2 separate regions of the Homo sapiens genome follow, and region 1 is linked to region 2. The links come from fine-mapping of genetic effects on gene expression. A gene starts in region 2. The other region holds a variant in brackets. All regions are shown on one strand. Distances are between the middles of the regions.

The links.
Region 1: its variant is fine-mapped to the expression of MAF in skeletal muscle (FUSION, PIP 0.91).

The regions. Positions count from the first base shown.
Region 1 is chr16:78,873,312-78,878,680 of GRCh38, forward strand. All of the region lies in intron 8 of WWOX (WW domain containing oxidoreductase), which reads left to right. Among named protein-coding and RNA genes, the nearest start is that of WWOX-AS2, 380 kb to the left of the region's middle. The variant T/C (reference allele first, on the strand shown) is at 2,605.
Region 2 is chr16:79,598,480-79,603,848 of GRCh38, forward strand. MAF (MAF bZIP transcription factor) reads right to left here and starts at 2,258. Exons shown (of 2, transcript NM_005360.5): 1 at 306-2,258. The coding sequence starts at 1,423. LOC101928230 (a long non-coding RNA gene) reads left to right here and starts at 2,408. Exons shown (of 3, transcript NR_188556.1): 1 at 2,408-2,510; 2 at 3,568-3,871. RefSeq lists an enhancer at 2,173-2,467.

The DNA of each region.
Region 1 (5,369 bases), 730 kb before region 2:
AAGGGACTAGCTCCTATTATCAGAGATCTGGTCATCACCCTTCAAGTTGACTATCTCCTTATGCTGATTTTTTTTTTCTTTTAAATAGCAGCACAAATATTTACCATCTAGCAGATGTGGTAAGAATGTAAGTTGTTCAGCCATTTACAGCTTAGTCTTTGGGAGATATCCATTCATTTTAAATACTTGGAGGGCCAGGCACAGTGGCTTATACCTTGTAATCCCAGCACTTTTGGAGGCTGAGGTGGGAGGATTAATTGGGGCTAGGAGTTGGAGGCTAGCCTGGGGAACATACTGACACCTCATCTCTATAAAATATTTTTTAAAACTCAGCTGGGCATGATGTTGCATGCCTGTCATCCCAGCTACTTGGGAGACTGAGGAGGACGATTGCTTGAGGCCGGAAGTTCAAGGCTGCAGAGAGCTGTTATTGTACCACTGTACTCCAGCCTGGGCAACAGAGAGACCCTGCCTCAAAAAGTAAATAAAATAGTAAAATAAAACGAGATATTTGGAAGGCTATGTTTTTTTGCCAGGCCATGTGCTTAGTCCCTGGGAGTATAGCGAGGGGCAATCACAGGTCAGGTCCTAGTGTCTCTGAAGACTTCATTCTAGTGGCCATTGAAAATGTGTAACTACCCACAGTAATCAAGTTAAAGAAAGGTTCTGGCTGAGCACGGTGGCTCATGCCTGTAATCCCAGCACTTTGGGAGGCCGGGGTGGGCGGATCACAAGGTCAGGAGTTTGAAACCAGCCTGACCAACCCTGTCTCTACTAAAATTATTTAAAAAAAAAATAGCTGGGCATGGTGGCACACGTCTGTAATCCCAGCTACTCGAGTGGCTGAGGCAGGAGAATCGCTTGAACCCAGGAGGTGAAGGTTGCAGTGAGCTGAGATGGCGCCGCTGCACTCTAGCATGGGCGACAGAGCGAGACTCTGTCTCAAAAAAAAAAAAAAAAGCTTCCATTTGAGCCGCCAGGAAAGGAGGCCCTGAGTTGGGGAGTTGAATAGAGAGCTGCATCCTGAACAGACATGATCTTGGGTGAGTGAGAGGCTAGGAGCGGAGGGAAAGCAGACGCAGTTGCTAAAGCTGTCAAGTCCCGCTCCCTTGGAATGCAGTCCTGGTTCTGCTACCTCCAACTGGGTCGATTTCAAAAAATTATGGACTTGTCTGAGCCTGATGTGGTGCCTGGCCAGGGCTCACTGCAGCGCCTGGTATACAGGAAGAACTTGATGTTATTCATGGCAAAAGATGTCTGGATGGTCTCCACTACAGATTCTGATGGCAAGTGACTTAAAGACATGTTGGCAATGGGTAGTGGACAAAAATTGAAACACCTTCAACTGTGTCTGTGACCAGAAGATTTTTTTCTTTTTTTTTTTTTTTTTTTTTTTGGCTGACTGTCATGACTTAGTAAGGCCATCACAGGTTGCCAGAACATCTACTCAACTGTTCCAAGCATAACCTCCTACACAGGCCTTCTACATAGGAGTATATTTGGCCAAGACTCACCACTAGAAGTGATTTCCACTGGACTTTCCTACAGCAAGTGGTAAATGATCCCTCAGATAGGCCCAAGAGCTCCCCTTCAAGCATAGAGACACAACCCTGTGAAAACATGCATTGGAACCAGGAAGGCCTGCCCCCATGACTTCACGTTGCATACATGCCTTTGAGGACTTGGCCTCTTAAAGGAATCTTTCAATATCCTATGCTTCTGAGAAAGTTACTATTTCATTTGCAGCAGGACAACTCAACAAGCTAGCTCTTCCTGCCCAGCAGACTCGGTGGATTCTGAAGAGGGTCTCGGGCTGACTCTCTACTTCATGGGTTTGAATTCAGGAATGTTGCAAGATTGCATGAGATTAAGCCGCTGAAACCTTTCTGAGGAAGAGCCAGCTCAAATTTCAGTGTTGGATGTTCACCGCTTCTTTAGGGTTCTACCACTCCCAGTAAATCAAGTAATAGGTTTCTGTTAAAAACCCCAGTGTGCTGATCTCAGTGGCAGCCATCTTGCTTTGTAAGCCTTCTCTAGCTTTATGATGCTCCCAGTATATAAGACATTTCCAGTGTCTAGTCCAAATTAGTATTTCTCTAATTCTCGAGTGTCTGATCTGCCTGGCTAGAATGATTAAAACAAAAAAATAGCAAATCAGTTTGACAGTCCACTTCATTAAGTGGAGGACAGTGTTTTGATTGCTATTTAATCTGTTTTTCCTTCTGTCTGTTCTTGGCTATATGGAATTCACTTTGCCTCTCTTCCCGACTCTTCATATCCCTTATCTCAAGGTGAGTATCGTCAGAATCCCGGTACATTTCACCAGCCACCTTTTATAGAAGCTTAGAAAGATGGAGGCAAACCCATAAACAAGACTTGGTTTTTCTAAGCCACAGTGGCAATTTCCTAGTCGATTACAACTGTGTCTACCCTTTCAACTGGCCTGTCAGTGTAGGCTCTGCATGTCCTGGATAATCCTACAATTGGTGACACGGTTATTGACTTACAGGTTTCTAGGGCATCTCATTCGTTTTTTAAAAGAATGTTTCTTCCACACTTTTATTGCTTAGTAGAAACTTGTTCTAATTCTTTCTCCTGATACCA[T/C]TTAGCCTATTAGTACCTGGGAATAATCACCCTCCCTTATCTAGTCCTACAGATTTGTTTTGTTTTGAGTTATACCCACTTTAGGTCTCCCACCCTCTCTTATTTTTATAAACAGGCTCCATGGTACTATATACACTGCAGATGGACAGCTGCCAACCTGCTCTTTTTGTGCTGAGGAACTCTAGATATTTCAACTAGTTTACATGACTTTCTTACCTACGCTACCTTATAATCCTTTTATAAATTTTGCTTTACGTTTTAACAACGGAAAACACTTAAGGTTTTTTTCCTTTCTTTTTTTTTTTAATTCTTCCGCCAGCTATCTTTAAAAGCAGTTCTAAAACTTCTTATTTTAATATTGTACCCATTGTACTTTAGTCTAAGTGATGGCTGCTTATGGCCATGCCCTTTCTTCTGCACTTTGGGTGTTTTGTCTGGAATTTTCTCTCCTTTCCTTTTGTGAAAAAGGATGAATTTTCCAAGACTCTGTTATGACAGAAACTCACCAGTTCTCTGTTGTTAATCAACAAATAGATTGTGAATGCTTGACTCTTCTTTTTTTTTTTTTTTAAAGGAGTTTCAAGGGTAAGATCTGCTGTCTTGTGAATGTCAAAGAAGTTTCTCATTCGCCCCTTTCTTCTCTCTCCCAGTGTCTTTAATTTGTTAATGCTTTCGACTTATTTTGCTTTGGATAATTTTCAAAGTACTGCTTTCTCTAGAGATCTCTAAAAGGCAGAAGTTCTGGCTATTAAAGATTTGCCATTCTCAGAACAGCCCAGTTAGGGTACCCTCAGGTTATTTATAACTGGATTTTATCTCAGAAAATTAACTAAAAGAAGATTAACCAAAAATCTAAAGGAAAATGCCTTAAACACCTCATCTATTATGCTGTGCTCAAACAGATATTTTCATCTTAACAGCTTGGCAAACCCAGTGGAACGCTCTTTCTAGTTTGGGGCATAAAATAAGATAACACTCTGAATTCCTACAGGAAATCTTGTAACTCTACTTAAAATTAAGGCATAAAGTAGGAAAATGTGTTTCCTCTGTATAGTCTTATTACTTTGCCTGTTAAGTTAACTGGTTCCTATTTCTGCTGGTTCGAAGAGGTCCAGGACATTTAAATAGCTCTTCTAGAAACAAATTCTTTTCCTTACAAGCCCTGCCAGGTCAGTGGGTTCAGTAAGGAAGAAGGTTTTGTATTTTGACAATTCCTTCATCTGTTAATTTAGTCAGACGAGGAAGGAAACGAGAAAAGTTATTCCTATTTCATCCATCTAAGACTTTATATCCCATTTCAGGCTGATTAAAAGGCAAAATCGTCACAGTAGGACACCAAACCCTCTGTATGCCCTGCCTGCCTCCCCCCCTCTGACCCGCCTGCCTCCCCCCTGTGAGCTTTTTCCACCTACTGGCCTCTTGTTCTTCTTCAGCTGTTCCTCAGACATGCCAGGTGTGTTCCTGTCTCAGACGCTTTGCCTTTGCTGCTCCTTCTGCCTGGAGTATTCTTCCACGTAGCACCATGAGCTGTTCTTCTCCAAAAGGCTTTGCTCAACTGACACTTTCTCAGTGAAGCTGTTTCTCACCACTCACTATAAAATGGCAGCCTGCCTCTCTGAGCCTTGCACCCTCTCTTCCTTTTCCTGCTTTGTATTCCTTGTGGCACTTATTATATCACATAGATACAGACATAGATGTGGACATAGATAGAGACATAGACATACATGAGTTTTGTGTTTATTCTCCTATTCTCTAGAAGAATGTAAGTTTGTAAGTACTGAGATTTTTGTCTCTTTTGCTCACTATTGTACTTCAGGGCCTAGAGGAAGGCTTAGCACGTGGAAGACAATATTTATTGGAGGAATGAATCTAGAAATATCCTTGGATGTATAATGTCCAACTCACTCTACCACACAGCAACATAGGTAGTTTTATATACATTTTATAGCTAAGCCCAGCAGCCCAAAAAGCTAAATGACTTCAGCGCCCACAGATACTCCTGGATGAGAGGGGATTGGAAACCAGGTCTGTTCAATTGCAAATCCCCTCTTGTGCCTTTTACAGGTCAGATGATTTTGTTTTTATAGGCTCTAGCAGGTCCCTTCTCTTTGCGTCACCAGAGAGGAAGATCCCCTAAGACAAAGCATTCCCTGTAGTTTTTAGCATAACTAGTACTGGCTCAGTAAGTATCCACTGGGGTTCGGAATACAACTGCCCTGCCTCTTGAGCAGCCATGCCTGCTTCCGAGGTGGTGCTGCATGCTATTCAGGAGGACAGACCATGGATGGAAATCCTGAGCCACAACTCCTTAGCCTCATGACATTGGGCAGATGACTGAGCTTGTCTGAGTTACAATAAATAAAAATACCATGCTGAATGATGGCCTAGCATGACATTGGGAAGTACAGACTTTGCAGGCAGGCCCCTGGGTTCAATTCCTGCCCCTGTCATTGAGTAAAGTAATTATCATAACTTTGGAACAAATTGACCTCTCTAAGCCTCAGTTTATTCTTCAGCTAAATGAGGATGATTGATAATCAAAACTATTTTATAGGGCTTGGGGGAGCATCAAATGAAATAACACATATAAAAGGCTTGGTTTAATCTCTGAAGCACATTGGCACTTAATAAATGTTAACTATAATTATATTAACACCTATTTTACAGGGTTGCTATGAGGATATCATGAGATAATATGTATGAAGAACCTAGCACACTGTTTGGTGCATGTGAGGGTTCTGTAAATGTTACCCATTTTATTCCTT
Region 2 (5,369 bases):
CAAGTTATGGAGAATTTCAGATTGGCAATCCATGAGCCAGACACCCATTCCCTCCCCAGTTTAAAACAGCCACCACCACCACAAACTCGAGCAGGGTGTGGGGTGTGTGTGTGTGTGTGTGTGTGTGTGTGGTGTGTGCGTGCGGGTTTGTGTGTGTGTAGGGGGCCAAGGGGGCCAAACTCGGTGGGGGTGGGGGTGGTGAGGTGGTGGCGAGCATGGCTCTAGAACTAGCAAGCCCACACCCGAGCCGGACCCCCGCGGAGCACTTATCAGGGTGGCTAGCTGGAATCGCGTGTCAGACTCACATGAAAAACTCGGGAGAGGACGGGTTGTCGCTGCTCGAGCCGTTTTCTCGGAAGCCGCTGCTCACCAACTTCTCGTATTTCTCCTTGTACGCGTCCCTCTCGCGCACCAGCCTGGAGATCTCCTGCTTGAGGTGGTCGACTTGCTGCAGCAGCTGGTTCTTCTCCGACTCCAGGACGTGTCTCTGCTGCACCCTCTTGAAGCGGCAGGACTGGGCATAGCCGCGGTTTTTCAGGGTCCGCCTCTTCTGCTTCAGCCGGATCACCTCCTCCTTGCTGACCCCGCGCAGCTGCCGGTTCAGCTCGCGCACAGACATGGTCACCAGCTGCTCGTCGGAGAAGCGGTCGTCGAAGTGCAGGCCGCCGGCGGCGTGGTGCGGGTGCAGGGCGCCCCCCGCCCCCGCCGCGCCCCCGCCGCCTCCGCCGCCGCCGCCGCCGCCGCCGCCCCCAGCGCTGGCCGGGCCACCGCCGCCCGCGCCCCCAGCGCCACCGGCCGAGGCGGCCGCGCTGCCCGCGGCGCCGGGCGCGCCGGCCGTCGGGTGGTGGTGGTGGCCGGCGGCGTGGTGGTGGTGGTGGTGGTAGTGCGGGCCCGCGCCGCTCTGCGCGGCGGCCGCGGCGATCACGGCGGACACCACGGCGGCGGCGGGGCCCATCTCCTCGCCGCTGCCGCCCAAGGAGGCGCCGGCACCGGCCCCGGCCGCCGCGGCCAGCTGCTGCGCCCCGCGCGCGTAGCCATCGAAGCCGCCCTGGAGCTGGTGGCTGTTGCTGATGAGCGCCTCGACCGCGTCCTCGGGGCTGAAGCCCAGCGCCTCGGGGTTCAGCTGCTGCGGGTAGCCGGTCATCCAGTAGTAGTCTTCCAGGTGCGCCTTCTGCTCGCTGCCCGAGCCCGGGCTGGGCGCCGAGAAGCTGGGGGAAGGGGGCACCGAGCTGCACGGCGTGCTCATGGGGGTGGAGGACAGCGAGCCCCCGGCGATGAGACGGCCGCACTGGCTGATGATGCGGTCGGTCTCCACCGGTTCCTTTTTCACTTCAAACTTCATCAGATCGAAGTCATTAACATATTCCATGGCCAGGGGACTGGTGGGCAGGTCGGAGTTGCTCATTGCCAGTTCTGATGCCATTCTCCTGCCGCCGCCGCCGCCGCCGCCGCCGCTCCGCCAGATGGGCTGCAGGAGAGGGGCCAGCGGGCTGTGCTGGGTGGCCAGCGGGTGAGCCAGCTTGCCGGGCTGGGGCGCTTCTAGCTTGCGCGGCGGTGGCTGGCCCGAAACCTCCGAGCGCGCTCACACACACACCCCCCCGCCCTGCCCGCGCCCCCCGCGCCCGCCCTCCCTCCCCCCTGCTCACGCCAATGTGCTCCCTCGCTCGCCCCGGCCCCTCCTTGCTCGCTCGCCTCCTTGCGCGCCGAGCCGGCGGCTTCAGGCTCGGGAAGATCCTCCGCGAGCTGCGGTGGCGGCGGTGGTGGCTGCGGCGGCGAAGCTGGAGGAGCCCGGCCCGGTGCGCGGCGTCCCCCGCTCGCCGCTCCGCTGCGCGCTTTGCATAAGGAAGGGCTCGCCTCGCCGGCCCGGGCTGCAGGCAGGGCGCGCGCGGCGTCCGCTCGGGGCTGGAGGCGCGGCGGGCGTCTGTCCGGGCGGCGCGGGCCTTGGCACGGGGGAGTTAACACTTCATGCTTCTCGCCTCCTCTTCTGCTTGGCTCTCTTTATTATTTTTTTTCTTTCCTCTCTCTCCCTCGCGCGCTCTCTACCTCTGTGCAAAGTGCAAGGCAGAGGTGCAGCCCGACTGGAGGAGAGGGAGGGGGGAGTTTAGTTCTTTCTTGCCTTTTTTTAAAAAAGCAAAATAGCGAAGTCCTGGGGAAAGACGAGGCAGAGAGCAAAGGGGGGAGGGGGAGGCCAAGCCGACAAGCAGCCCGAGCTACAGCTAGAAGATGAAAAAAGATTTTAAAGCCTCTGATCCAGCAAGAAGAGTTTAAAGCAATTGCTGAGTTTTATAGCACTCGTGACGTCAGGTCCAAATGAGAAATTGACTGGCACTCCGGGCCAATGGGAGGCGGCGAGAGCGGCCGCGATTAGCATAATAGTATAGAAACAAGGAAACTTTTCGGAGCTGTCAATCAGGGCCCAATCAGCTGACTGTCAGCTGGGACGGGCTGGCTTAACCCTTCCTGCGCCGCTGCCTACCCGGGAGGGAACGAGGCCCGGCGCAAAGTTTGGTGTAAGAGGGGAAGGAGTTTTTCCAGAGGGGCTTCGGCAATCCGGGCGGACCTGGGAGGGCGGTTTGCTTTTCTTTGGAGCGCGAGACAGGCCTCCCATCCGGAGCCCCAGCTCGCTGGGGGCTCACTCGGCTGGGATTGGCCTGATTCCCCTCCCCTGCCTGCCCTCCACCCCCAGGATTGTGAATTCGCCTCCCAGCTTTTCCTCCTCGCACCAACTCTGGTACCCAGGTGTCTGCCGGGGACCTTCCTTCCCTGAGCCTGGCCGTGCCCGGCGCTCAAACTTGGCCCCAACTCTTTGTCCGTCTCTCGGGCGCCCGTGCGGGGAAGGGACCGGGAAGGGAGGGATGCAGTGGGGTGTCCGGATCGGGGCTGCGGGCTGGGCGCCGCCCGGCCATGCGCCTGCCCAGAAGGCTGGGCATCCGTGGAGAGGGAAAGCCCATTTTATCCCTCTCTTTACAACGAGGTAAAATAAGTTGTTTAGAGGCCATTCTTCACGGAGACCGGCTGCCCGCTGGCGTCGCGTGCCCTTGGACAGAGCGAGCGCCTATGCGAGATAACTCCGGGGAAGCTCAAAGTCAGGTCAGCCGGGCTCAGCCTTCCGGCTCCTGACTGGCCGGAGTTTGGCCTTTGAGACTCATATTGCGCGCTCGCTCTCTCTCTCTCTTACACACACACACACAAACACACACACACTCACACTCACCCGTCCCCTTACGAAATCTGACCTCTGTTTATCAGGGTCAGGCGCGCCCTTTGCACTTTTACGTTTCCTTTAATTATTTCGGACTTGATCGTGGCAGGGAGCAAGGGGGAAAAACAATACCCCAGCCCTCACCAGCTACCCTCGAAGGGTTAAATTTTAAACCGCGGTTTCTGGAACTAGTCCGGAAACGCAGAGTGGGGGGTGGGGTGGGGGAGGCTGCTCCCCCCACCCCCAGTTGCAAATGCTAATAAGTAGTTCAAATTTCTAGATTGATTCTCTAAAAGTTTATGCAAAAAAGAAATAAAAAAGAAAAAGAAAAAAGAAGGAAACCAACAACTAACTCTGTTTCTAAGATTTTAAAGCGATAGGCAAGTCGAAGAAGCAGAGATTTATTTGGAGAGAAAGCTCCTGAAACCGACCCAGCCTTTGGAAGACCAGCCCGTCTGCTTAGAAGTTGGGACTGTTGATTCCTTCAATTAATGAAATGCATTTGGTGTTTTTAATCGTATTTATTTTACTTTATGAGAAGGGGGAGACGCTAGGAGGGTGCATTAAAAAAAAAAAAAAATTCTGAAAAGCCTGCAAAAGGATCGAAGAGTGGAAACTATTGTTGGAGCGAGTTGGTTTTTACCTCAACAGCGCCACCTTTCGGCAAAGGTCAGTTGAAATTGATCCGTGTCCAGTTTTGTCGATGAAGTGAAAAGCAGCTGGTTACCCAGTGTGGGAGGAGGAAAGAGACACACAAAGTTAGTTTGACTGAAGTGGGAGAACCCGACCCTATAGGAAAGGGGCCGAAGAAAGTGCTGGCAGATGCAGAGATCATTTTTGCCCCTCCTCTTCTCCTTGATTGTTGACAAAGAGGCCAGGGGATACAGACACCCTCGGGGTGTAATTTCTGGCTGAGACCTTTGCAAGAGGATCCCCATGTAACAGGGCCCCAAACCCTTTAAAAGTGCCAGGATGGATTTTCAACGGGCTTTATGGCAATATCAATAGGATTAAAGTTACTTGTAATTCAGTGATAAATGAGATGTCTCTAGTAAGTAAGATTAAGTGCAGTGCTATAAAGTTGTTTATCTGGAAAGTAATTCTCAGAAAACCTGACTTCTGACACTTAGTCATATATTAAGCCAGCGTCTTGAACATTGCACTTCAGAATGGTCTTCCCCACCCCGCAGCATGCTTTGCTATTTATAACCTCAGGTGTCTCTCACTCGTTCCTTGCACCATATTAGACCTGTGTTAATTTCTCTGATCCTAGTAGACTTCAGTTTCAGCAAACCCAGGAATCCTTAATGGAAGACTTCCCAAAAGATTCGTAGGCACACCCTAATCTGAAAAGGGCAGCGCTGTCGGTATTTTTCAGACAAGTAGTGTTTCTTTTCATCGTGACTGCAGAGAAGTTGTTAATAAGGGTAGTTTTGGTCTTATAAGAGCATTTTGTTGGGTGGAATAAACTATGTCTATTACCAGTTTGGGGAAGAAAGAGTGAAGATTATGTCAATATTTATGCAACCTAGCAGAATTCCCTTGCTTTCCTTCTCTTTAACAATATTTTCCCTAGTAATGAAGTTAAGGGATTATAGTTTATTTAGAGGAAAATCCACACTTTCCATTACATAAGCATTATGTCATTTAACATTGCCCGTAACAATAGTTTTCTAGGTCTTTTTAAAAGTCAGTAGTCACAAATGTAGGAAGTTTATATTTTTCATGTAAAATATGAATTTAAGTGTATTTAGAAAGAATTTATTGTTTGTTTATGATATACTTTTAATCCTTTTGCATCATATTTGTGTTAAAAGCTGTAAGGTATGATCATTGCCTCTGAAAGCAGTATTATAATAAATAATAAATAATATTTTATACACAAAGTTTGCTAATGATGAAGACTGTGCCATACACATTCATGGCTGAGTATCTAATTGTTACATTGTTATATATCATTTCTAGAAATTAAATGCCCATGTTTGGGCAGCTAAATATATTATTATCTGCACATTTTTATGGTTTATTTATGTACACTGCTGTGAAGACATGGTATTTTTATTTCTCTTATTGCAAGGTCTTTTATAGTCGCCCATTTTCTCTTGGAAAAAAAAAAGAGAGGATCAGAATTATTTTTTTAGATGTGTAGCAGTAATGCTCTCAGGCT